Regions from separate parts of the Homo sapiens genome. Here regions 1, 2, 3 and 5 are each linked to region 4. Evidence: fine-mapped expression QTL. A gene starts in region 4. Each other region holds a variant in brackets. All regions are shown on one strand. Distances are from middle to middle.

The links.
Region 1: its variant is fine-mapped to the expression of GSK3B in whole blood (INTERVAL, PIP 0.94).
Region 2: its variant is fine-mapped to the expression of GSK3B in whole blood (TOPMed, PIP above 0.99).
Region 3: its variant is fine-mapped to the expression of GSK3B in whole blood (INTERVAL, PIP above 0.99).
Region 5: its variant is fine-mapped to the expression of GSK3B in whole blood (INTERVAL, PIP 0.98).

The regions. Positions count from the first base shown.
Region 1 is chr3:119,887,802-119,892,905 of GRCh38, reverse strand. All of the region lies in intron 7 of GSK3B (glycogen synthase kinase 3 beta), which reads left to right. Among named protein-coding and RNA genes, the nearest start is that of NR1I2, 110 kb to the right of the region's middle. The variant TA/A (reference allele first, on the strand shown) is at 2,161.
Region 2 is chr3:120,159,515-120,164,618 of GRCh38, reverse strand. The region is part of intron 1 of LOC105374065 (a long non-coding RNA gene); the gene reads right to left. Among named protein-coding and RNA genes, the nearest start is that of GSK3B-DT, 67 kb to the right of the region's middle. The variant AAGAGG/G (reference allele first, on the strand shown) is at 2,574.
Region 3 is chr3:119,825,743-119,830,846 of GRCh38, reverse strand. It overlaps GSK3B (glycogen synthase kinase 3 beta), which reads left to right. Exons shown (of 11, transcript NM_001146156.2): 11 at 3,992-5,104. The coding sequence ends at 4,059. Among named protein-coding and RNA genes, the nearest start is that of NR1I2, 46 kb to the right of the region's middle. The variant G/TG (reference allele first, on the strand shown) is at 2,978.
Region 4 is chr3:120,092,200-120,097,303 of GRCh38, reverse strand. It overlaps GSK3B (glycogen synthase kinase 3 beta), which reads left to right and starts at 2,857. Exons shown (of 11, transcript NM_001146156.2): 1 at 2,857-3,957. The coding sequence starts at 3,870. It overlaps GSK3B-DT (GSK3B divergent transcript), which reads right to left and starts at 2,200. Exons shown (of 3, transcript NR_186629.1): 1 at 1,526-2,200. RefSeq lists enhancers at 1,749-2,068, 2,348-2,642, 2,269-2,678.
Region 5 is chr3:120,241,849-120,246,952 of GRCh38, reverse strand. GPR156 (G protein-coupled receptor 156) reads left to right here. Exons shown (of 10, transcript NM_153002.3): 2 at 2,475-2,950; 3 at 3,177-3,313. The coding sequence starts at 2,855. Among named protein-coding and RNA genes, the nearest start is that of GPR156, 41 kb to the left of the region's middle. RefSeq lists an enhancer at 3,042-4,241. The variant A/C (reference allele first, on the strand shown) is at 2,056.

The DNA.
Region 1 (5,104 bases), 200 kb after region 4:
ACAGAATACATGTTTTCTATTTAGAAAAATTTGTCCTTTTGAGGATATAGCAGCCAATCTAACACAACCCAACACTCCAAATTCCATATGCAGAAAATAAATGAAGATGTTTAGGTATTCAACCATTTATACAATGATTATGTTGTGTTATATAATTTCATTTTTAAAACCTTTATTGAATTCATTATCTATAAGCCTAGCCATACATCCCTTTAGTCTTTCAAGGTGCATACCACATTAACTACATGCGTTAATTTAGTGAACAGTTTTTACTAGGTGCTGGGCAAGAACTTAGAGGTTTCTTGCCTTCAGGGGCTTCAGAGACTGATGGATGGGAGGAGAGGAACTGAGGGCAATAGGGCAAGCCCAGTATTATTCCAGATGTCTGAGCAGAATACAAAGGCAGAAGCATTTCACTCAGAGTAGTGCTGTCTGGAAAGCCTTCTTAGGAGAGCTAACCATTGAGCTGAATATTGAAACATGAAAAAGTATTTACCAGATAGGGAGCGGAAGGGAGTGGATAAATATTTAGTAAAACTAGGTTTGGTGTGTTTCTTTATGGTTGTCGCTTAAGGTTCTGCCTGGTGGGGTTGATAGAATATGAGTTTACCAGGAAGGAGAAGACTGGAGCTGTTGACAGTGGCCAGATCACATTAGCTTGTAAGCAGTTGGAAGCAATTGCAGGATTTTAAGCGGAGTAGCGACATTTCTAATAGGTTTTCTTTTACTTCGCTCTTAAAGGCTACACATGCACCTCTATTGCTGAAGTTTGGCGACCTCTGGTGTTGAACTATAAAATAAACAACGTTGTGGAAGAAATACTAGCGTTTCAGAGCTTGTCAGTTGCTTTTTGTGAGGTGCTTCTTGGGCCGTAGTACTTCTTTGAAGACAGTAATTATCAACTCATAATTCCTGTGTTGATATTTTTCAGTGTTTGGATAAATTTCTAACTAGGTAGGGCCAGGAACAGATAAATTGATTGATTTAATAGTAAGGGGATGAACAACATCCCCAAAGGGGTGGGGCAGGCTGATCTTGATGCTTTTTGCAACAAATGAAAAGATCATGAGTTCTAGTAATAGATAACTGAGAATATGTTCCCTTCCCATTGGTGTGATAATTTTTAAAATTCCCCCCTCTTTTGTATGAAATACACTTACAGAAGAGTGCATAAAGCATTTCCATCTAGTTTAATTTCCTTTAAGTCAAAAAAGGACTCAGTTTTCAGGAAATCCAGGAATAAGTATTAATTACTCAAAATATATGTCTTTAGTCTAAACGTTTTGGAGGAAAAAAAATTTCCATCTCTTAAAATTCAAGTGAACCCTAAGACTTGTTTTGTGTATGAAATGATAATTTGTCAAACATCTTTTTTATCTATAAAATTATTCAATTATTCTGTTTCAAAAGTTCCAAATGTAGAATTCAGCTGGAGTAAATCAGGTAGAAATATACTCTGAACCTAATAAAAACTTAATATAAAACCTAAAGATATACTCAGAGGTTGAAATAGGATAGTTGTTAAAATGTCTTATGTTTGTGGTGTTAAAGATAGTCATGCGTTCTGAATCTTTGCTCTTCATATCTATCACTTGCTTACCTTTTAGCCTTTAATTATATCATCCATCTATAATCCAGTCCTTATTCTCTTTTAGAATGCTGTTTTTCACCTACACATCTAGTGTGCATAGAATGTACTTTTTACTCATTTGCCTGCTACATTCCTTAAGTAAAATCAGCTCTTGACTCCCCTTCCAGAACCTTTCCTGAATCCCTTCCTCTTTCCAGTGCAGTGTAGCACTTTCACCTCACACATTACCTATACTTACTTTGCTATACTATTGTCACCTGATTGTTGTTGATTTACGTACAAGTCTCTCTGCCCTAGAGCTTCTTGAGGAATAGGCTCTAAGTAAACGTTTTGAAATGTGAATAACTTCAGAGGCTGAAAAGTTTTTTAAATGCCTCTTGATTATGTCTCATCTTTGCTTTCTTAAAAAATATGCATATTGTATATAAAATAGTTCTGATTTTAGGGTTTGACAGATTCTGATACTTTTAATGCTAGCCTTATAAATAGCAATTTAAGAAGGTTAAACTTCTGTTTGCATTTAGTAAAGGCAACACAAATTACATAATGGTCCCTTTTTTTTTTTTTTT[TA/A]CTTTTTAAATCAAGTTAATAGAAATATAATTTATATGTAATAAAATATAGGCATTTTAAATGACAGTTTAGTAAATTCCAACAAACATGCCCATATAACCACTACCCTGGTCAAGATTTAGAACATTTCTATCACCCTAAAAATGTTTCTTTTTATAGCCTGGAATGACCAAATGTCTCAGTTTGCCTGGACTGAGGGGTTTGCCAAGATGGTCCCAGGCAAACTGGGATGGTTGGTCACCCTGTTCATTCTCCTTTGTGGTCAGTTTCCCATCTTCTGTCTCAGGTGATCATTGATCTATTTTCTGTCACTACAGATGCCTATTCTAGAATTTCATAAACGAAATCATATATTTCTTTTGTATCTGGCTTTTTTTGCTCAGTACCATGTTTTTGAGATTCGTCAGTGTTGCTGCCTGTATCACCTGTTTATTCCTTTTTATGCTAAGTTGTATTCTGTTTTATGAGTATACCACAATTTCTTTATCCATTCACCTATGAATGGACATTTGACTTGTTTTGGGGTTTTGGTTATTATGAGTAAAGCTCCTATGAATGTTTGTTTACAGGTGTTTTTGCAGACATATGTTTATATTTCTCTTGAATAAAAAAGTAGGGCTGAAATTGCTGATCATATGGTAAGTGTATGGTTACCAAACTATTTTCCAAAGCAGTTTTACTATTTTACACTCCCACCAACAACACATCAGAATTCCAGTGCTTCACATTCTCATCAACACATGGTATTCTCAATAATTTTAGATTTAGTCTTAAAATGACTTTTATCATTAGGAAATGCCCCTCTTTATTTTTGTTTAATTTTCTTATCCTGAAGTCTTCATTTTCTAATATTAATATAGGCACTCTATCTTTCTTATGATTTTGCATGGTATAACTTCTTGCATTCTTTTACTTTTACTCTATGTGTTTTAATTTAAAGTGCATTTCTTACAGACATATAGTTAGGTGTTTTTTAATTGAGTTTGACAATTTCTGCCTTTGTAATTGAAGTACTTAGACTATTTACATTCAGTGTAATTATCACTGTGGTTGAGTTTAAGTTTTGCACCTTCGTATTTGTTTTCCTTTCATCCCATCTTTCCTTTGCTCTGTTTTTCCCCCTCTTTTACTGCCACCTATGGATTAAATCAGTGGTTTTTATTTTTTCTATTGGCTTTTAAGCTATACCTCCTTGTTGCATTTTTAGAGGTTGGTCTAGGATTTAAAATATGCATCAATATATTACAGTCAGTCTTCAAGTAGTAATGTACCATGTCATATAGAAAACAAGAACCGTGTGACAGTATTTCCATTCCCCTTCCTGTTCTTTGTGCTATAGTTTTCATACTTTTTAATTCTACATGTTATAATCCTTACAATATTTGTTGTTTATAGGGGGAACCCGCCCCTAATATTTCAACATAGGTTTTTTCTATTTTCCATGAGTGTCGGCTGGCTGAGAAATAAAGAGAAAGAGTACAAAGAGAGGAATTTTACAGCTCGGCCTCCGGGGGTGACATCACATATCAGTAGAACCGTGATGCCCACCTGAGCTGCAAAACCAGCAAGTTTTATTAAGGATTTCAAAAGGGGAGGGGATGCAAGAACAGGGAGTAGGTCCCAAGATCACATGTTTCATAGGGCAAAAGGCAGAACAAAGATCACATGCTTGTGAGGAAACAGGACAAAGGACAAAAGGCAGAACTTTTGATAAGGGTCTATGTTCTGCAGTGCACGTATTGTCTTGATAAACATCTTAACAGAAAGCAGGGTTTGAGAGCAGAGAACTGGTCTGACCTCAAATTTACCAGGGCGGGATTTTTCCCCACCCTGCTAAGCCTGAGGGTACTGCAGGAGACCAGGGCGGATTTCAGTCCTTATCTCTATGGCATAAGACAGACACTCCCAGAGCAGCCGTTTATAGACCTCCCCCAAGGAATGCATTTCTTTCCCAGAGTATTAATCCTTGCTAGGAAAAGAATTTAGTGATATCTTCCCTATTTGCACATCCATTTATAGGCTCTCTGCAAGAAGAAAAATATGGCTCTATTTTGCCCAACCCTGCAGGCAGTCAGACCTTATGGTTGTCTTCCCTAGTTCCCTGAAAATTGCTGTTATTCTGTTCTTTTTCAAGGTGCACCGATTTCATATTGTTCAAACACACGTGCTTTACAGTCAATTTGTACAGTTAACACAATAGTGGGCCTGAGGTGACGTACATCCTCAGCTTATGAAGATAACAGGATTAAGAGATTAAAGTAAAAAAAAGACAGGCATAAGAAATTACAGAACTGTTAATTTGGGGAACTGATAAATGTCCATATTAAAATGAAATCTTCACAATTTATGTTCAGAGATTGAAGTAAAGACAGGCTTAAGAAATTATAAGAGTATTATTTGGGAACTGATAAATGTCCATATTAAAATGAAATCTTCACAATTTATGTTCCTCTGCCGTGGCTCCAGCTGGTCCCTGTGTTCAGGGTCCCTGACTTCCCGCAACAGTTGTTACTTTGCTTTAAACAATTTCTTCAAGAGGAATTTTTTAATGAGGGGGAAATATCATACATTTAACCACATATTTACCATTTTTGGTGCTCTCTATTCCTTTGTGTAGATCAGAATGCCCATTTCAGAAGTCTTTCTTTAATCCTGAACTACTTTTTTGTGGTGAAGATCTGCTGGTGACAAACTTGGTTAGCTTTTGTTTGCCTAAAAATGTATTTTGAAGGATATTTTCACTTGATGCAGAAATTGGTTTCCCTTGGTTTCCAGGGTTTATTTTTCCTTCAGTTTTTGGAGAGATCTCTATTTTCTTCTGGCTTTCATTGTTTCTGTTAAGAAGTCAACTGTTGATACCCTGTATATACCCTGTCTATAATGTGTTTCTGGCATTCTTGAAGATTTTCACTTTGTGAGTGGCTTTTATCAGTTGATTATGAG
Region 2 (5,104 bases), 67 kb before region 4:
CGAGGTCAGGATTTCAAGACCAGCCTGGCCAACATGGTGAAACCCCGTCTCTACTAAAAATACAAAAATTAGCCGGGCGTGGGTGGCACATGCCTGTAATCCCAGCTACTCAGGAGCCTGAGGCAGGAAAATTGCTTGAACCGGGAGACAGAGGTTGTACTAAGCCTAGATGGTGCCACTGCACTCAAGCCTGGGTGACAGAGCAAGACTCCGTTTCGAGAAGAAAGAAAGAAGAAAGAGAAAAAAGAGAAGGAAGGCTGTCTTAGGGTCTGTATTTTGGACTCAACTATATAGAGGCTTCTGTTATCCATTTGACCTAGAATGACTTTGTAACGCTTGCCAGACCTGATTGAAATTTATCATTTTGTTCAAAAGCAATGTGCAAACACCATAACTGTGCTCAACAAAATGTTGCCACCAAATGTATCATTTACTCTGTGCATCACCCCTACCCTTCCCCACCTCCTTTCCTAAATTTTTACCTAAGATCAGCTAATCCAGTGATGAAATCCTTAAAGGGCTGAATGTGCCATGACTTTTGGCATGCTCTTGGTTGTTCTGCTCTTGAAGAAAGGGCAGTAAATTGTGCAAAGGAATCCTGGAGAAGTAAACATTGCCTCTGCTGCTGTCATCTGAGCTATACATGTCTCTGTTGGTCCTAAGGCATAGCATGGAGCCAGGCCTGATTCTAACCCCAGCATATGTCCTCTGCTGTTGAAAATCTTGGAATTTCAACATTTGGATTCCATCCTGATCCCAATGTCTTTCCCTGTCCTGGTCTGCCACAAACCCTCTTTCCTTAAAGGTTCAACTTGGCCTTCCTAGAGTTCATAGAGGAGAAAAAAAGCATCAGAGGCAGGAGGCCTGTTTTTAAAGAATGATATCACTTTGAAAGAGGAAAAGAGAAAAGTCAATGCAAGTTCTATAAAATCTCTTCTGTATCTGTGTTTATCGTATTATCTTTACATGTGTCTCCTCCACAGATTCCAAGCTCCTGAAAGCATTGAGCATGTCTTCTCCATCGTTTTTCTCCTCTAGAGTAGCCATTACAGATCTTTGCACAAAGTATACACCCAACAAATGCTAGATGGGTGGATTTCTGGGTAGATAAATGGGTGAAACAAAGGAAGGCAAAGTTTCTGTTTTGGGGCCAGAGCGGAGGAGCAGGAGGAAAAACACGCATCTGGTTCCACTGCCTTCCGGTGAGTTAACAGCATGAAACTACATCACCTGCAGACCCAGGAGTCACTGAATTCTGAAAATGACAGTACTTTAAGTTTGTTGGGGGGTTGGGGAACAGGGCAATGAAGTTTATGGAAGAGAAGCGCAAAGTTCTTGATAAAGTTCTTGTCTTAAAGACGTTTTCTTTGCAGGCTTGTTAATGAGTAACAAGCAGTATTAGCAGAAGAAAGACCTGTTTGTCTCTATCACCAACAGCTTCCTGAGTCCCCTTTCTCAGAACTCCAAACAAAACAGTTTCTCTATTCCCTCCGGCCACTGCACTTTTCCCAGTAACACAATCTGGGCTCTGTTAAGGAAGGGTTTGTTTGTTTATTTATTTATTTATTTATTTATTTTTATTTTTTGAGATGGAGTCTCATTCTGTTGCCTTGGCTGGAGTGCAGTGGCGTGGTCTCAGCTCACTGCAACCTGCACCTTCTGGGTTCAAGCAATTCTCCTGCCTCAGCCTCCCAAGTAGCTGGGATTACAGGCACCTGCCACTACACCTGGCTGATTTTTGTATTTTTAATAGAGACGCGGTTTCACCATGTTGGCCACACTGGTCTTGAACTCATGACATCGTGATCTGCCTGCCTCGGCCTCCCAAGAGGGAGGGTTTAATGCAGACAGTGGTGTTTAGGAGGCTGAAAGCAGGAGAGAGCTTATCACTTTGCCCTCAGAGTTTGCTTTCCCTATCCCTGGCACCCACTCTGATGTCTTGCTCCTTGAAACATTCTTGACCTTAGCATTCCCCAATCAAACCACATTTGAATAAGAGAACATCTTGAGATGTTTTGTTCACCACTTAAGTCACAAGAAGACAGGAAATGCCAATGTCACAAATCAAAACCTGTTGTGAACTTGAAAAGGTCTGTGTCAAGGTTTCCCAAGAAACATTAGGCTCAGAGAATAAGTGCCTGGGAGACACCCTGGAAAGGTCTGTGGGTGACTAAGAAGAAAGCAAAAGGCTAGGAGAAAAAAAGGGAAGATGGATAAGAAGTTCAGGCACGGTCCCATGGCTCACGCCTGTAATCCCAATGCCTTGGAAGGACAAGGCAGGAGGATTGCTTGAGCCCAGGAGTCCAAGACGAGCCTGGGTAACAGAGTGAGAACCTGTCTCTACAAAAAATAAAAAATCAGCTGTGTGTGGTGGCTCATGCCTGTGGTCCCAGCTACTCGGGAGGCTGAGGCAGGAGGATCTCTTGAGCCTGGGAGGTTGAGACTGCAGTGAGTTATGATTGTGACACCGCAATCCAGCCTGGGTGACCCAGTGAAACTTCAACTCAACAAGAAAGAGGAAGAGAAAGAGGAAGAGGAAGAAGAAGAGAAGAGGAAGAAGAAGAAGAGAAGAG[AAGAGG/G]AAGAAGAAGAAGTCCAAACAACAGAGAGATGAGAAGAGAGATGTGGTGAAGGAGCAAGCCAATCAAAGAACAAAAGGCATCCTATGTGGACAGTTTGTGGCAATTGCCTCTCACATAAATAAATGTACTGACGCCAGTTCTAAGTTGAGAGGTGAGGCTTGCTTCTGCGAAGAATGGCAGAGATATCCTTGCAGAGTCCTTTCTTTAGGGCATGTGTGACTGTTCATTTCTCCACTTTTCCCGTTAAGACTGTGAGCTCTTTGAGCTTAGAACTTGTTATAATTATCTTGGAATCCAGTACCTAGCACTGTGCCTGGCACATGGTCAATGCCCAGCAAATGCTTGTCAAAAGAAAAATCAATCAAGGAAGGAAGAATGACCTCACCAGAACTGTCTTAAGGGGCACCCCAGGGAAGCACAGCTCACAAAAGTTCAAGTGGGAAGCCAGGCTTAGGTATCTCTTCAACTTATGTGATGGATGGCAGTGTTGCTGCTTCACCTAAATTTAAATCCCCCGTGATAACATCTTGAACCCTTTGTGGAAAGAAGGCATTTTAGATGTGCTCTCTTCATTAATTTTTGTACAATAATTTTCTATCCCCACTGCGATGCCTGGGCTTCAAGTCACCTGCATGACCATGTTGCTTTCAGCAAGTTCAGAACCTCTTTATGGCTCAAAGGCTCCCAACTGCCACCTGGGGTAACAACACCTACCTCATGAGGTTATGAGGGCTAAATGAATTAATATTTGTAAAATGGTTTGAACTGTGCCTGGCACGCAGCAAGTTTCATATGTTTGTTGAATAAAAATAAGTAGATAAAAAGTCTTACAAAGGAAAACACAGATTTATATGCAGAAATCCTCTTTATGTTTTCTTGTGTTACACAAAAATTCCTCATCTTGGTCTTCAATTTGTTCCTGAGGGAAGAGATCTGGAAAAGCAAGGATAGCCTTTTGGCTCAGCCCACTTTTGGGGAAATAGAATTTTCTGCCTGAACCCATCTGAGACAGGTGCATTTACTATAGGGAGCATATCCATCTGCAGAACTCAAATATCAGGGTGAGGCCAGAAGGAAAGGTGTAGTTGGAAAGCCAGGAAATTCGATTTTTTTTTTAAGATGGAGCCAAGAGACACTAATTTCCTTAGTAGAAATATTATGCACTTTGGCTGGGTGCAGTGGCTCATGCCTGTTATCCCAGCAATGTGAGAGTCCGAAGAGGGTGCATCACCTCAGGTCAGGAGTTTGAGACCAGCCTGGCCAATATGGTGAAACCCCGTCTCTACTAAAAATACAAAAATTAGCCAGGCGTGGTGGCTTGTGCCTGTAATCCCAGCTACTCAGGAGGCTGAGGCAGAAGAATCACTTGAACCCAGGAGGTGGAGTTCGCAGAGAGCTGAGATCGCACCACTGCACTCCAGCCTAGGTGACAGAGCAAGACTCTGTCTCAAAAAAACAAAAACAGAAAAATATTATGCACTTTGTAATAGAAGAAAATATATGTAAGATAATCTGCTATGCACCACTTAATACTCATCTTATTTAATATTTATAACCACCTAGCAAAGTAGTTATTGACTCTGTTTCACAGATGAGGAAACTTTAACTGGGAGAGGTTAGGTCACTTGCCAAAAATCACACAACTGGTTAGAGGCAGAGACTGAGTTTGCACTGAAATTTGACTTCATTCCAAAGCCTTTTGTGGACTCCCTAAAGCTGGTTACAGAGCATGTGCTACAGGCATGCTACCAGAAGACAGAAGGAATTTCAACCCGGCAGGGCAGGGACCCAGCCTGAGGTTTTCTTAGGACACCAAGGTTTCCTTAGGAAAAGCAAGCTGGTCTGGTTCTGTAAGCATATTGCAAAACTCTCCATTGCTCAGTCATTGCATCAGCATCCTGGAGGCTGGAAGGGAGCTCCCTAGAGCTACCTGGTCCTCCTCAGTTTCAGAAAGCTCAATGCAAAATACAGGTGATACTGACAGCAAGCAGTCTCCCTGTTTAAAAAGATCACGGTCAGTCCTGCAAACTGAAAAACTTTTCTCAAGGATTGTGCTTTGTAAGTGGCACAAAAAGATGATTCTGCGCAAGAGACCCAGAAGACCCTGTGGCAAATGGAAACAGTGCTACTCTCAGATCTTCTACTGAGCTGAGGGAAGAGCCACAATATCTCTTTTTTTTCTTTTTCTTTTTCTTTTTTATTTTTTATTTTGGAGATGGAGTCTCACTCTGTCACCTAGGCTGGAGTGCAGTGGTGCAATCTTGGCTCACTGCAACCTCCGCCTCTTAGGTTCAAGTGATTCTCCTGCCTCAGCCTCCTGAGTAGCTGGGATTACAGGTGCCCACCACCACGCCCGGCTAATTTTTGTATTTTTAGTAGAGATGGGGTTTCGCCATGTTGGCCAGACTGGTCTTGAACTCCTTAACTCAGGTGATCCACCCGCCTTGGCCTCCCAAAGTGCTGGGAATACAGGCGTGAGCCACTGAGCCCGGCCCACAATCCCTTTTCAATTCAAACCCACTTTG
Region 3 (5,104 bases), 270 kb after region 4:
GTGGGTGGTATTACTACCATTTTACCAATGAGGAAATGAGAGATAGATTAAATAACGTGTTCCAAAATCACACAGCTATTAAGTTGTACAAGTAGGCTTCATACTCAATAAATGTTTATAGAGTTGGTTTAGTTTTAAGAAAGATGTATCAGTGTGAAGTTCAGAAGAGCATCTCTGGTTGAAAACAAGAGACTAGAGTGGGTTAATGATCCATAGTCAGATCATTTATAATGAAAATGATCTTAGCCTCTCTTTTAAACCATAATGCCATTTAGCGTCACTTTACCAGTGCATATGTAACGGGAAGGGAATGTAAGGAGAAGTAAAATGAACTTTGCTGTTTTTATGTTGTGGAGTCACTATTTAAATGTTTGAGAAGAAAAGTTACAGAAATTACACTAAACTAAATCCAATGACAATTTATCGGAATTTTAAATTAATAAACATTTTAATAGAAAGCTCATTAATTCAGATTCCATTGTGTAAAATAAATTTACAGAGTGATGGTGGGAACAAAATAAGCATGTGCCAAGATTTGTTTCTTGAGTTATTTCTAAAAAGGTGGTAATCTGTGTTGTCTTGTTTCCTGATCTTGAACTAGTTTCTTCCCAGCCACCAAGAGGTCAGCTCCTCCTACTTTACCTGGCCCAGGGGCCAGTCCATCTTTATGATGGGATTGTAGAGATTATGAAATGTAACTTTACTCAGTCAGTAAGCTGGGTGGTCTTTTAAACCTACTATTGAGTATTGAATTTATAGAACTTTGCCTTTTTTTGTTTTACTTTTTCCCTCTCTGTACTTTGTCTTCCTCTGAAAAAGAGAACTCTGTTCTTCTCAGCAAGGACATGTGTGATTTGATTTTAAGTGGAGCTCATTGCATCAGGCAAAAGTTTTTTTGATGAATGTCTGTAGGACTGTGACTTTCGATATCAAAGATATTTATAATCAAAATAATTAGCGTTAAAATTATGTTCATTAAGTGATTTGAAAATAATTCAAGAGAAAAATATGAGATCATTACAGGTCTGAAGAGCATGGGTGTCTATCAAATTTTATTGTTCAGAAAGTGAATTTGTTTCTGGTTTTATGCTCACTTAAAAGGCTTGTGCTTTTTACTGTGATCATGCAAGCAGTCGTTGAATTTATCCAAGAAAGAGGAGACTGGTTTTGGCAATGTCACAAGCTCACAGGCTGTAGTCAGTGAAAGGACATCTGCACATTAATGCCAAATAGGATTTTGCTAAAGAGCAAATTAACATAAATGGGCTGGTGGCCATGTAGATGAGGTAAAACTGATGTCAGCCAGTGTAGTTAATGGCTGCCGTGGCCAGAGCTGCTCTCTCCATGTTGGCATGGGTGCTGATGTAGTGGTCAAACAGATAGATAAATTTCTGATGATCAGTGCCTCCCATAAGTCCTGGGGAAGACCAGAATGACAGTTCTACCTGTTATCTTCCCATACTGAAAATGAGAAGGAAATGCTGTTGGATGATGGTCATGCATAGGTTCTGAGTGTCATCAGAGCATGTGACATGCTGCAATAAGCATGGGTTTGTGGTGTTCCAGGTTTTCTCTGGATTTTTTTTTTAATGCAGCCTGTGCATGAATCATGAAAATGAACATTTTATCTGAGAAAGGCTTGGAGGAATCTGTGGTCTAGACAGGAATTGATGTTAGGTTATTGATGCACAGAATGTGGATGATCATTAAGGGTAAAACTTCTTTAAACAGGGCATATCTAAGGAAGGTCAGGAGTCACGAATGAAGTGTTAGCATAGTTCCTCAGTGATTGTTAGAAAAGGTGGTCAGCCTGGCTTTGGAGAGTAGGTTCTGTGTCATATACCCTTTCCTGCCACCTGTTCATTTGCCATACTGATGAATTAATATGACCCCATTACATGGGCTATATGAACCTAATGTGTGGATTCTGATGCCATAATATCTTCACTTGTGTACATGACAACAAGATTAGAAGCAGCTTTAGCTATTTTGAAGGAAATTAAATGAATTAAACCTAATCATTCACATTAAGAGATATTCACATTCCTTCCCCAAAGGCTGTGCTAAATGTATATAAGGGCAGCTTATCGGGAAATTAGGAAGTATAATTTTTATAGATTGGCTTTAGAAATGATAAACTGAACAGCTAATCCATCATAGAGTTCCCTATGTGTCCTTGGATATTCTGTGTCTCCCTCTAATTCAGAAATTCAAAGTAGAAAGATCCAGGACCAAACGTTGCATTCAACCATGACATTGGTTATTCTACTCACCATAGCACATGGTAGATCTACAAATCCCTTCAGTCCTAGAGAGAAAAAAACTTCTGAGTCTGCCTTTCGGTGTCACCAACCTTGATGGCATTGTGGCTTCTAGAGAGATGGCTTTTCAAAGTTGCCCATCCCAGTCAAGCTACCTCTCTTGCTCAGGGCTTAGTGTGAAATCTTTGGGAGAAAATTTGGCCAGCAGTACCTTCTCTGTCATTAAGAGAGATGACAAGGATGCAACTTGATAGCCACTAAAACAGCAGTCTACTAAACCAATTTGGACACAGTTAGATGCCCACTTAAATGTTAATGGATGCTGTGAAATAATAATAGACCTTAAAAGGGGGGAGGAGATAATGGTTAGTTGTAGAGTTGTACGTATTTCTAAAAGATTAGGGCAAAGTAAGCTCTAAGTAAGTTCTACGTCAAGATTTGACTACAAGATGCTTTCCTTTTCTTAATTTTTAATTTTTGTGGGGACATAGTAGGTGTATATATTTATGGGTTACCTGAGATATTTTGATATAGACATGGAATGTGTAATAATCATATCAGGGTAAATGGGATATTCATCACCTCAAGCATTTATCCTTTATGTTACAAACAATCCAGTCATACTTTGTTATTTTAAAATGTACAATTAAATTATTTTTGTACTGTAGTCACCCTGTTTTGCTAGCAAATACTAGGTCTTATACATTTTTTTTTTT[G/TG]TACCCATTAACCATCCCCACTTCCCCCACCCCCGCTACCCTTCCCAACCTCTGGTAACAATCCTTCTCTCTAACTCCGTGAGTTCAGTTGTTTTAAATTTTAGCTCCTACAAATAAGTGAGAACATGCAAAGTTTGTCTTTCTCTGTCTGGCTTATTTCACTTCACATAATGACTTCAGTTCCATCCATGTTGTTGCAAATGGCAGGATCTCATTCTTTTTCTTTTTCTTTTCTCTTTTCTTTCTTCTCTCTCTCTCTCTTTTTTTTTTTTTTTTTTTTTTTTAAAGACGGTATCTTACTGTGTCTCCCAGGTGGTCTTGGCTCACTTGCAGCCTCAACCTCTCTGGCTCAAGCAGTCCTCCCACTTAGCCTCCCATCTTTCTCTCTTATGGCTACATATTACCCCATTGTGTATATATACCACATTTTCTTTTATCCATTCATCTGTTGATACAAGATGCTTTATTAAATTGACTAAGTGAATTGGTACTGCAGTTGCTGTTTCTTTTTTGCTGGTTGTCTGTCTTCCATCTCTATGAATAATGAAGAGGGTCTGTTCTGCCCATCAACACTGACCCACGTTACTTTCATTGCCTCCACCTATTTACTTACTTAAGCAGATGGCATATTGTAACATGGTTCAAATTTTTAGCAAGTTTTCCCAGCTGTGCACTGTTCATTTATTTTCAAGTGAACTAGACTCCAGCTGAGTGTTCATATACAGCTGATCCCAGCTGTAGCAAGAGCTTTGACTGAAATGGTCTCTGGCTCCCTGAGTCTGCAACTTATTCAAAGACACTGTCTTCCCGGTACCAGGACCATGCTGAGGCATGAACTTAAATCCAAGAATAGAGAAATTCAGATTTCATAGTGTTGGCCTTATTTAAAACAACGTTCCAAATAACAGCTTGGAAGGCCATACAGTTCACAGCCTGCAGTTGAAACAGTGTACTTGTTCTCTTTTGTTGTTATAGCATTGCTCATGCTCTCTCTTGGGACTTTTTGACTTGCAGATGCTAATACTGGAGACCGTGGACAGACCAATAATGCTGCTTCTGCATCAGCTTCCAACTCCACCTGAACAGTCCCGAGCAGCCAGCTGCACAGGAAAAACCACCAGTTACTTGAGTGTCACTCAGCAACACTGGTCACGTTTGGAAAGAATATTAAAAAGAGAAAAAAATCCTGTTCATTTTAGTGTTCAATTTTTTTATTATTATTGTTGTTCTTATTTAACCTTGTAAAATATCTATAAATACAAACCAATTTCATTGTATTCTCACTTTGAGGGAGATCCAGGGGGTGGGAGGGGTTGTGGGGAGGGGGAAAGCGGAGCACTAGAACATACAATCTCTCTCCCACGACAATCTTTTTTTATTAAAAGTCTGCTGTTGTATACTTTAAAAACAGGACTCCTGCCTCATGCCCCTTCCACAAAAGAAGAAAACCTTTTTCTGTGCTGATGGGTTTTTTTGAACTTTGTTTTCTTTTAAAGTCTAGTGTGAGACTTTGGTATAGTGCACAGCTTGAAATTGGTTGGGAGCTTAGCAGGTATAACTCAACGGGGACTTAAATGTCACTTGTAAAATTAATCCATATCTTCGGGTATTTATAGACTTGCCTTTGGCATGTTGGTGGCAGGTGTGGCAGACAAAGAAATGTGTATCATTCGTAACCCAGGGAGGTCAATAAAGTTTGGAACTCTACAGGGAAGATTCTTAGTAGATTTGTTAAGGTTTTGTTTTGCTCTCAGTTAGTGCTAGTGATGTAGAGGCTTGTACAGGAGGCTGCCAGAGGGGAAGCAGCAAGCAAGACTCAGGCACACATGCTCTACAGGTGGCTCTTTGTTTGCCTGACCAAAGTTCTTTGCAAATCTTAGCACAGTTTCAAACTAGTGACCTGGGAGGAGATGGAAGGGGTGTTGAGCAGGCTGAGCTAGCTGCTGAGGTCAAAGGCTGATGAGCCCAGAGGAAGGGGACAGGTCAGGGATACATCTCACCACTGTGAATAAGTTTGTCCAGATTTTTTTCTAAAGTTACTTCCCTTGGAAAGATACACTTGAGAGGACATTGTAGTTAAATAATGTGAACTGTAACAGTCATCTACTGGTTTATTTTTCATATTTT
Region 4 (5,104 bases):
TGCCTTGGCTGGAGTGCAATGGTGCGATCTCAGCTCACTGCAACCTCCACCTCCTGGGTTCAAGCAATTATCCTGCCTCAGCCTCCCAAGTAACTGGTATTATAGACGCCCGCCACCACGCCCAGCTAAGTTTTAAAGTTTTAGTAGAGACGGGGTTTCACCATGATGACCAGGCTAGTCTTGAACTCCTAACCTCAGGCGATCCACCTGCCTCGGCCTCCCAAATTGCTGGGATTACAGTCATAAGCCACCACTCCTGGCTTGTCCATAAACTCTTGATCTTGAGCTAACATGATATGCACATTATAAGATACACACAGAAATAAAAAAAGGATTAAAGGTGCACTATTTTAAAGATAAATTTCAACCGGCCCGGTGTGGTGGCTTACGCCTGTAATCCTGACACTCTGTGAGGCTGAGGCAGGCAGATCACCTGAGGTCGGGAGTTCGAGACCAGCCTGACCAACATGAAGAAACCCCGTCTCTACTAAAAATACAAAAGTAGCTGGCATGGTGGCACATGCCTGTGATCCCAACTACTTGGGAGGCTGAGGCAGGAGAATCACTTGAATCGGGGAGGCGGAGGTTGCGGTGAGCCGAGATCGCGCCACTGCACTCCAGCCTGGGCAACAAGAGTGAAACTCCGTCTCAAAAATAAATAAATAAATAAAGATACATTTCAATTATTTAAGGTCCCAAACCATTTTGTTTTCACCCTCCTACTGCTATCGGGCCCCTAACAATTATTAACACTTTTTCCAATGCCTCATTGGCCAAGGGATGTTTTTAGGTTGGCCTGCAGGGTTTGAAAATTTGGTTACCAACATTTAAAAATGCAGAGATTTCACACAAAAATCCAATTTTGGGGTTTCTTTTGGGAGGAAAAAAATTGAACATCTGAGAACACTGGACCCACATTCCTGAGGGCAACAATCTGCTAGAGTTGAGCAGCTGTTCCTTTTAGTTATGGCATGGATATTCCAATTTGCCATTTTCCCTATCATTCCCCATTGTCTTACACAAGGCCAGTCTCACTCATTTGCTTTACTTGTCTGGCCTCTGTAGCCATTTGAATCTGCAAACACTATCTAGACCTTTCCTGTCTTCCATCAAAGCTTACTTTGTTCTGTCCCAAGTCCTTCATCAGTGTTTCAAAGCAAGAGCCAGGTAATCTGATCAAATATAGGTCCTTTAACATGTGCTTTCTGGAGACAGCATCTTAACAGAAAGAGATGACTCTGCAGGTAGAAATTACAGGCACCACTGGATTACAATCAGGATGGCAACTGTCTGTTCTACTTTCTCTGTTATCTTGACGTAGCCATACCTCACTGTTCTAAAGCAGACCAAAGGAACTGGTTCTATGGTAGAACAATGGACGCTGGTCTTATGTATGAAATCTTCTCAAGCTGCACTTTTATAGATCACCCTAGTTCCAAAAGATCCAAAGCTACCACGGGCTCCTCTGACCCCCCCATTTCCTCGGAGGCTTCAGGATATCCGGCCTGACGGCATTTCCCCTCACCTGCTTTCGGGGCCCGTTTTGCGCTGGGCAGTTGCGCCCAAGGAGCGCGCGCATCCAGCATGAGCTCATTTCTCATGGGCGTTTCCAGAGGCCCGGCCGGGCCGCGCACACCAAGCGCAGCAAGCCTCTGTATCAATGGCCCCCGCGGCTGGGCGGGGCGCGGCCGCCCAAAGGCGCTGCCTTTCTGGAAGCTTTGTTCCCATTTTAGCGTCTGAGAGCTTGCAGCCGGCTGGGAAGGCCCCCTTGGTCCGTCTGGCCCTTTCGGGGAAGAGGCCAACACTCGGCACACGCGATCCACGGCAGAGGGGAGCCTTGGGCGCGCAGAATTGGCTGCGCCCCGCCGAGAGCCTCCTGTGGGTGGGGAGAGCCCCTCCACCCCTCTGCTCGCTTGAGCGCTCAGAGCCCAGGGCCGCCGACCGCAGCACTTTCCGATTTGCTGCACCGAGGGCCCGCGGTCCCTGTGTGCGGTTTCCACCGTTGTTGGAGGCGGCCGCAGGCGAACCGTCGGGTCGTCAGCCACGACCCGAGTCAGGCATCTCCCCGCTCCTGGGACCGGGGCCGAAGGCCAATCACACTGCAGCTAGGTCTTGCGATTGGACGGCAGTGAGAGCCGATTGGCCGCCGCCGCGAGTTTCGGGCTCCCTCCCTCTCCCTTTTGCCCCAACTCCAGCGCCTAAGCTTCAGGCCAATGAGACAGCGCTTTATAGACGCCCTCCCTTCGCTTTCTTCTCCCCACCTTGGAGAGGGAGGGGAAGTCCTGACTGGCCAGACTGTCCTCGGAAGCCCCCTTCTCTTCACCAATCACCGAAGGAGGTACGCTCCCAGCGGAGTTTTCCAGCCAATCACAAAGCGGCGGCGGCGCCCAGCCGTGCAGTTTCACCAGCGTCTCTGGGTTTCACCGTCCTCAACTCTTCAAGCCTCTTCGTAAGGGCCGGCGACTCTGATTGGCCACTGTTGCCATTGTCGAATGTCTCCTCCAGCCAGCCACCGAACAAGGCGAATTCACCCTTTCCGTTCGGCTACCTTCGGCATTTTCCGCTCTTTGGGCGTGGCTTCCCAGCGTCACTTTCTAATTGGTTTCTCAGGCTGATCGGCTTTTTCCGGGAGGAGCCGCAAACAAACGACGTCCGTGATTGGCTCCGTTCGGGCTTCGGCTCCCAGCCGAAGCGGGCGAGCGTGGGGCTCGGCCGGCGATTCCCAGACGCCTGTTACGCGGGCGGCGGGGCGCTGGGCGGTGTAAGGCTGGGTGGGGGAGGAAGGAGGTGGAGGACGAGTAGGAGGGGGGAGGAGGAGTGGGGAAGTGCAAGGCGGCTGCGCAGACAGCGCTCCTCACACAGAGCAGCTCCTGACCCGGGCGAATGCGGGCTTGTGCCGCCGCCGCCGCCGCCGCCGCCCGGGCCAAGTGACAAAGGAAGGAAGGAAGCGAGGAGGAGCCGGCCCCGCAGCCGCTGACAGGGCTCTGGGCTGGGGCAAAGCGCGGACACTTCCTGAGCGGGCACCGAGCAGAGCCGAGGGGCGGGAGGGCGGCCGAGCTGTTGCCGCGGACGGGGGAGGGGGCCCCGAGGGACGGAAGCGGTTGCCGGGTTCCCATGTCCCCGGCGAATGGGGAACAGTCGAGGAGCCGCTGCCTGGGGTCTGAAGGGAGCTGCCTCCGCCACCGCCATGGCCGCTGGATCCAGCCGCCGCCTGCAGCTGCTCCTGGCGCAATGAGGAGAGGAGCCGCCGCCACCGCCACCGCCCGCCTCTGACTGACTCGCGACTCCGCCGCCCTCTAGTTCGCCGGGCCCCTGCCGTCAGCCCGCCGGATCCCGCGGCTTGCCGGAGCTGCAGCGTTTCCCGTCGCATCTCCGAGCCACCCCCTCCCTCCCTCTCCCTCCCTCCTACCCATCCCCCTTTCTCTTCAAGCGTGAGACTCGTGATCCTTCCGCCGCTTCCCTTCTTCATTGACTCGGAAAAAAAATCCCCGAGGAAAATATAATATTCGAAGTACTCATTTTCAATCAAGTATTTGCCCCCGTTTCACGTGATACATATTTTTTTAGGATTTGCCCTCTCTTTTCTCTCCTCCCAGGAAAGGGAGGGGAAAGAATTGTATTTTTTCCCAAGTCCTAAATCATCTATATGTTAAATATCCGTGCCGATCTGTCTTGAAGGAGAAATATATCGCTTGTTTTGTTTTTTATAGTATACAAAAGGAGTGAAAAGCCAAGAGGACGAAGTCTTTTTCTTTTTCTTCTGTGGGAGAACTTAATGCTGCATTTATCGTTAACCTAACACCCCAACATAAAGACAAAAGGAAGAAAAGGAGGAAGGAAGGAAAAGGTGATTCGCGAAGAGAGTGATCATGTCAGGGCGGCCCAGAACCACCTCCTTTGCGGAGAGCTGCAAGCCGGTGCAGCAGCCTTCAGCTTTTGGCAGCATGAAAGTTAGCAGTGAGTATTGGTTTTATTTTACACCCCTTTTCCACCTCGCCCTTAAAATAAGAAACCTCGAAATACCAGGATCTGAAATTATTAGACCTCCTGATAAACAGGCAATGGAAAAGGGCAAAACCTATCTTCAGTCAAGGATGAAGCAGCTCCCTTTTTACTCCTCCCATACCCCCTCCCCCGGTCTCATTAACCTTGAATTGAGATAATATGATATTTATTTGGATGATTCGATTTCAAACTGCTTTCTTGTACTTTTCTTGCTGTTGGTAGTCAGTTTCATCAAGTGCTCGAGTGTTTCCACGTTAAAGTAGTGATGACAGTGTTTACTTGCCCATCCTTTAGAATAAAGAGAAGGACAAGATTTGATTACTAAACCATTATGCACATTTGCAGAATTTTTGGAATTTGGAATGAGAGAATATTTTAGGTCTCAGGGGTTATCATAGTTTGATATACTTAATAGAGACGTTAAATGTCCCACCCTCCCAACATTTTTTTCTTGTTTGTATGACTACACATAATATTTGTTCTTAATCTGTGGATGAACTTCCTCAGTAACCATTCACATTTGGAGGCTGCCATTGATTTCTCTCTTTAGAAGGGACTAGTGGGAGCCAATAAATACCTAGCAGCAGTAACATCTCTGTATGCATTTGTGTTCAATTGGATAAGTGGTTTGATGTGTTATCTCTTAACCTTCCTGTTTTGACATTACCAACCTGCCACCGTATAATTTATGTTTAATCAAAAGTTAACTTGGAAGTATTAATAGGTCCAAGTTTTGATTGAGATTTGTTTTGTCATAGTGCCAAATACTAAGTTAAATGTTGTCACTGGCTCATTACATTTAAGTTCAATTTTGGAGTGCTACTGCATTCATTACCTGTTAAATGTTCTGGCGGGTTCCTTAAAAAGGACGATTTAAAACACTCTAGCGTTAGTTTCCATCATATTTAGATAACTGTGGATTTAGTTAGAAGAATGTGGATTTAGTCCTTTCCATTTTGGCTTTTGCAGATGGCTATGGTCCTAGAAATAATAGGGATATTTGGGCTGTGTTCAGGGTTGTGGATAGACTACTCTTGTCCTGGGTTTGTGCTGAAAAGTATGCTCTTGAAGTGTTTAATATATACTAAGTATCTAATGT
Region 5 (5,104 bases), 150 kb before region 4:
TTCCCAATCACTAAACACTTTTTGAAACCATTCAACTCTTTCCTTTCAATGATTGAGCCCTTCATTGTTTCATCAGCTCCTCTTGTGTGAATCTCTCTGAATGTGTGCCAAGTTTGCAGTTTAATGCCTGTCCCATGTAGGAGCCCAATATCACGGTATATAAAGTTTCTACACTGGATATCCATGGACTGAAGAGGGGCCTAGCATTCAGGGTTCCAAGCCAGTGAGTTTAGCTTATCCAAGGGTACCTCTAGAATGTGCTCAGAAATTTATTCCAAGTCAGAGTTGCATCCCCCAGGACTTTAGGCTCAGATGGACAACCCCATCATATTTACAGAATCCCTCAAAGATAATTTAAGTTTAAGATTGTCAGCCCACCTGGGGTGCACAGTGTTGACCAGGGTTTCTTAACCTTAGCACTGTTGACATTTGGGGCCAGATAATTCTTTGTTGTTCAGACCATCCTGTGAATTATAGTATGTTTAGCAGCATCCTTGGCATCTACCTACTAGATGTGAATAGCATCCTTCTCTTAATTTTGACAACCACAGATGTCTCCAGAATTGCCAAATGTCCCCTAAAGGTGCAAAATTGCATAGTTGAGAACTACTGGTAAAGAGGCACTATGGCATGCCAAGCTCTAGGGAGCCCACAGAAGTGCACCTCTGGGAACTAAAGCTGAAGAAACCCAAGAGGCCCCTTGGTATCTTCTTGGAAGAAGTTAGTCCAGAGTGTCTGCACCATGTGGAGTGTATACTGGGATGACATTGACCTTGGAATGTAAACTCCTGGGATTCTTGCCTCTGCAGATTTGGAGCAGGGTTTTCTTCTTCTCTGCTTTTCAGTTTACTTATTTGAAAATGAGGAATGGTGTTTACATCACAAAACACTGTAGTGAGGACAAAATGAGGTTTTATGTATATATACACCCATACATATACATATACACTTCTTCCAAATGATATAATAATATATAAACATTGAATGAATAATGGTTCAAATATAAGTGTACTTATTTGCCACTATGATTAAAAGGGCAATATAGGAAAAATACATTTTCTTCTAATCCATCATGTTGTAATAATCCTCCCTGTGGTTGCAGTATGGTTCTGTGCTAGAAGGCACAATAGGAAATCTCTAACTTTAAAAAAAAAGAAAAGAAAAAATATCTTTCTAGCAATTAAAATCTCAACTAAATTAGAATGCAAATAGGTTTTTATATTTGCTTCTTAATTTTGCATTCAATAATCTGACTAGAATATGCAATAATTTAAATGCCTTGATGGGAGATAGTGGCTTTTAGTTCTCTTGGGATTTCATTGTAATAAACCTGGTAAATAATTCAGGAACATATGAGAGGCCAATGAATGGTCAGCACCTGGTGCTATATTATTTGTGCCTAAGCACACAGACTCCAAAGATGGCACTCTCCACCTGTCACTGTTGTTCTGGCTTAAACATGGGCCCTGTGTTCAGTGGCTATTGAGATAATAGTAATGGATATTTTTGCCTTGTCCAATTTTCCTCCACAATCAAAGAAAACTGTGCTAAGCTGTTTAAAAAATACAAAGCAGAAGTGGCAGCCTCTTTTAGATTACCACTGGTAAAATTTCAAATCTATTTTCTCTATTAAGGGATTGATTGTTTTAAAGAATTAGGGATATGGCTATCTTTTCTACTGGTGCTAATTTGAGCCTTTTTGCCTTTCTGTCTTTGTTCCACAAGGCTGAGCTTCTCTTTAGATCACATTATTCATATTGCAAGGATCTTCTGAGAGAAATAACACCATCCTCTGGCCAGCCACTCACTCTGCAGGAGTTCCTAGAGCTCCCCAGTTTCTTTCCCTATTGCCTGAGTAGTCTATCTCACGCCTGTTAGTCTCACAGTTTAAATACAAACACACAAAGACTCTTGCAGGCAGCTTGGGTACCTTTCTTTGACCCCAGCCGACTGGACATAGAGAACAAGAGCTAGAGAGAACAAGAGCTAGAGTGACCGACAGATCATGTGTGGAGACAGCATGGGGCACCTGAGCCCAGCACCATCCAGGATCAG[A/C]CAGAACTTAAGCCATGAGCTGCCTAGAAAGATCTTGGGAGGGCACTGGGTTTCCCAGTATGGAAAAAAGAAAAATGTGGCTCACAAGTCTAAGCTAAGGTCTTTACAGTACTGGGCCATAAACAGGATCTGAAAAGAAACTGCAGAAAATGTTAGATATGCTTTATCTTTGTTTTAAAAATATTATTTACTATAATGGCTTAAAATATGTTGATTTAAATATATGATATTTGATACCTTTGTAATATATATAATAAAGTGTATAATAAAATATAACTATATAATTAAAATAGATGATATTTTAAAACCTCTCTAATAAACCATTTACGTGTGTGTGTGTGTGTGTGTGTGTGTGTGTGTGTGTGTGTGTGTGTATACATGCCTTTGTTTAACAGGTTTAATTGCTTTCCTTTCTTCAGGAACCAGAGTGAGGGTACTCGAACAGTGACTGCCATCTGGTGGTTAACCAGAATCATCACCTTGTGTAGCCTGATGGTTACTAAGATGTCCACTCTTGACTCACATGGCATGCACTCGCAGCAGGGGACCAGTTGAAGGATGTCTGACTTTGGAGGGTCACCAGTTGAAGGATGTCTGATGAAGGAGCCTAGCGAAATAACCCTTTGCTTCTACCTGAATGGGTTGTTCACTCTGGATTCTGAGCCTGCAGCCAGCTCCAAAATGGGGCCTCTGAAGAAAAGATTTGAGTTGCTCTTGTGTCTTAGTCAAAGATCTACATCCCTACCAGTGGGTAACCAAGACTGTGAATAAGCACACACCAACAGGGGCATGTGGTGACATGGAGCCTGAAATAAACTGCTCTGAATTGTGTGACAGTTTTCCTGGCCAGGAGCTGGATCGGAGACCCCTTCATGATCTCTGCAAGACAACAATTGTAAGTGAGCAGCCACAGGATGCCAGGGCTGCTCAGATGTATGTGGTGGTGGTGGTGTTGGGGAGGAGGAGGTGGAGGGAAAGGGGGATGAGGAAGGGGAGGAGTGGGAGGAGAAACTGCTCATGCAGGATACATATTTCCCAGCACTTGGTGACGATGGGGCAGTTTGTTTTTGACCTATAGAAGATCCTTCATTCCTAACAGCTCCTCCTTATTCTGTCCTCAGACATCTTCCCACCACAGCAGTAAGACCATCTCTTCATTATCTCCTGTCCTCTTGGGTATTGTTTGGACTTTTCTCAGCTGTGGACTTCTGCTGATACTTTTCTTTCTTGCCTTTACAATTCACTGCAGGAAGAACAGGTAAGCAGCCCAGTTTCTCATCACACATAGCTCAATCATGAAATCCCAAATGTTAGTATCTTTTGGCAGCACAAGCCACTATCTGGTCTCCCACTACAGGATTAAACCACATGAGACATTCCCTCTGAAATAGTCTACCTGTTGAGAAGGGGAAAGATCTAGGTCGGTATTGTGCTAACTACTGCAAGGGTATCCAAAGAAGAGAATGAAGAGTCTCTCTCTATAATGGAGGTACAATCCTTCTGAGAAGATGAGGTATCTGTATTTAAAATGAAGACCATGTAGAGGATTCCAAAACAACACAAAAACTTGAGGACAGCACAGCAGAACCAGTCTGGGTGAGTTAGGGTTTCTGCAAAAGCAGTGAAGCACTGCTACCTGGCTATTTGCTAGATAATTCTGGCTGACTAGAAAGTCATCAGCTTATCAGGGTAAGTATGGCTCCCAGGATTCGCAAAAGAAGCAAAATGGTGACTTTTTTCTGAAGGGACTTATAGCACCTTGCCTTGGATGCAATTTCATCCTTCCTCAGGGCCCATCCCATCTCTCCCACCCCCACACTGTACCCTCATCCTACCACAGCCGTCCCAGGGTGCCTCATGAGAAGCCCTGCTCCAGCCCTCTCCTTAGCCCACAGCTGACTTCTAGATGGAGCCCACAATCAGAAATTAACAACTTCCTCAAACCAGCCAAACTCGTCCAGCCCCACTCCAGCCTTACCCTGTGTGGTGACCAAGCATGTCGTGCTCCATTGCCTGTGGATTTGACACTCAGATGAGAATTGGTCAGTTGCATTTTGGGATGCTGTTTTGCCATGTTAGGCATGGAGGACGTGGAATTGTTAAGCAGCAGTGATTGGTTGTTGGGTCAGCCTCAGCATGGTGGTGATACGTGGCACTCCAACTAGAGTATACCCCAGAGACTGCCTCAGCCACTTTTCATTCTGTTCCTCAAGCACACTACGCTGACTCCCATCTCAAGGCTTTTGTACTTACTGTTCCTGTACTGTTCCCTCTGCCTGGAAGTCCTCCTCAGATATTCCCATGACTAGTTCCTTCTCATCTTATAGGTCTTGGCTCCAGTGTCACCTCTTCAGAGACACCTTCCCTGATCATCCTATCTAAAGTAGTATCCCTACCCATGATCACCCCCTCATCTCATTCCATATCCTATCAGCCTGTTTTATGTTCCTTATAGCAAGCATAGTCTGCTATTACCATATTTGTTGATTTACCTGTTGATTGTCTGTATCCCCTACCAGAATGGAATTCTGTGAACACAGGGACTTTGCCTGTCCTCTTGTGCCCACCACTGTGTCTCCAGCATTTAGAACAGACTCTGGGATATAATAGGTGCTCAGTAAATATGCATCCAGTGATCCTGGGAGGAAAGAGATTTAAATCCCAACGGTGGCTGCTGCCAACAAAGTGACTGGGAAAATCATGCATTTCAAGGTTAGAGAACTATGGAGTACAGTCTTTTCAGCTGTAACATGTTTCTATAATGCAAAGTAATACTCAATTGGTATTACCCAGTTGGTAATAAGAAAATTATGTCATTGATTCATATGTTACTTTTCCCCCAGCAAATCAATAATTTAAACATTCAGGGGCAAGCTTTCTCACAGCTAGTAAAGGAAGCTTTAAGCTTGGCAGTTCCTTCCCTTGGTGCAAGTAGTGTCTGGCTTAATGGCTTAAGAACTTGTGTCTTCCCTACAAGATGAGGCTGTAGGAGTAGATGAAGAAGTGGAGAAGACATTTGCCTTATGTTTAAAAACTTCAGTTGATTGTT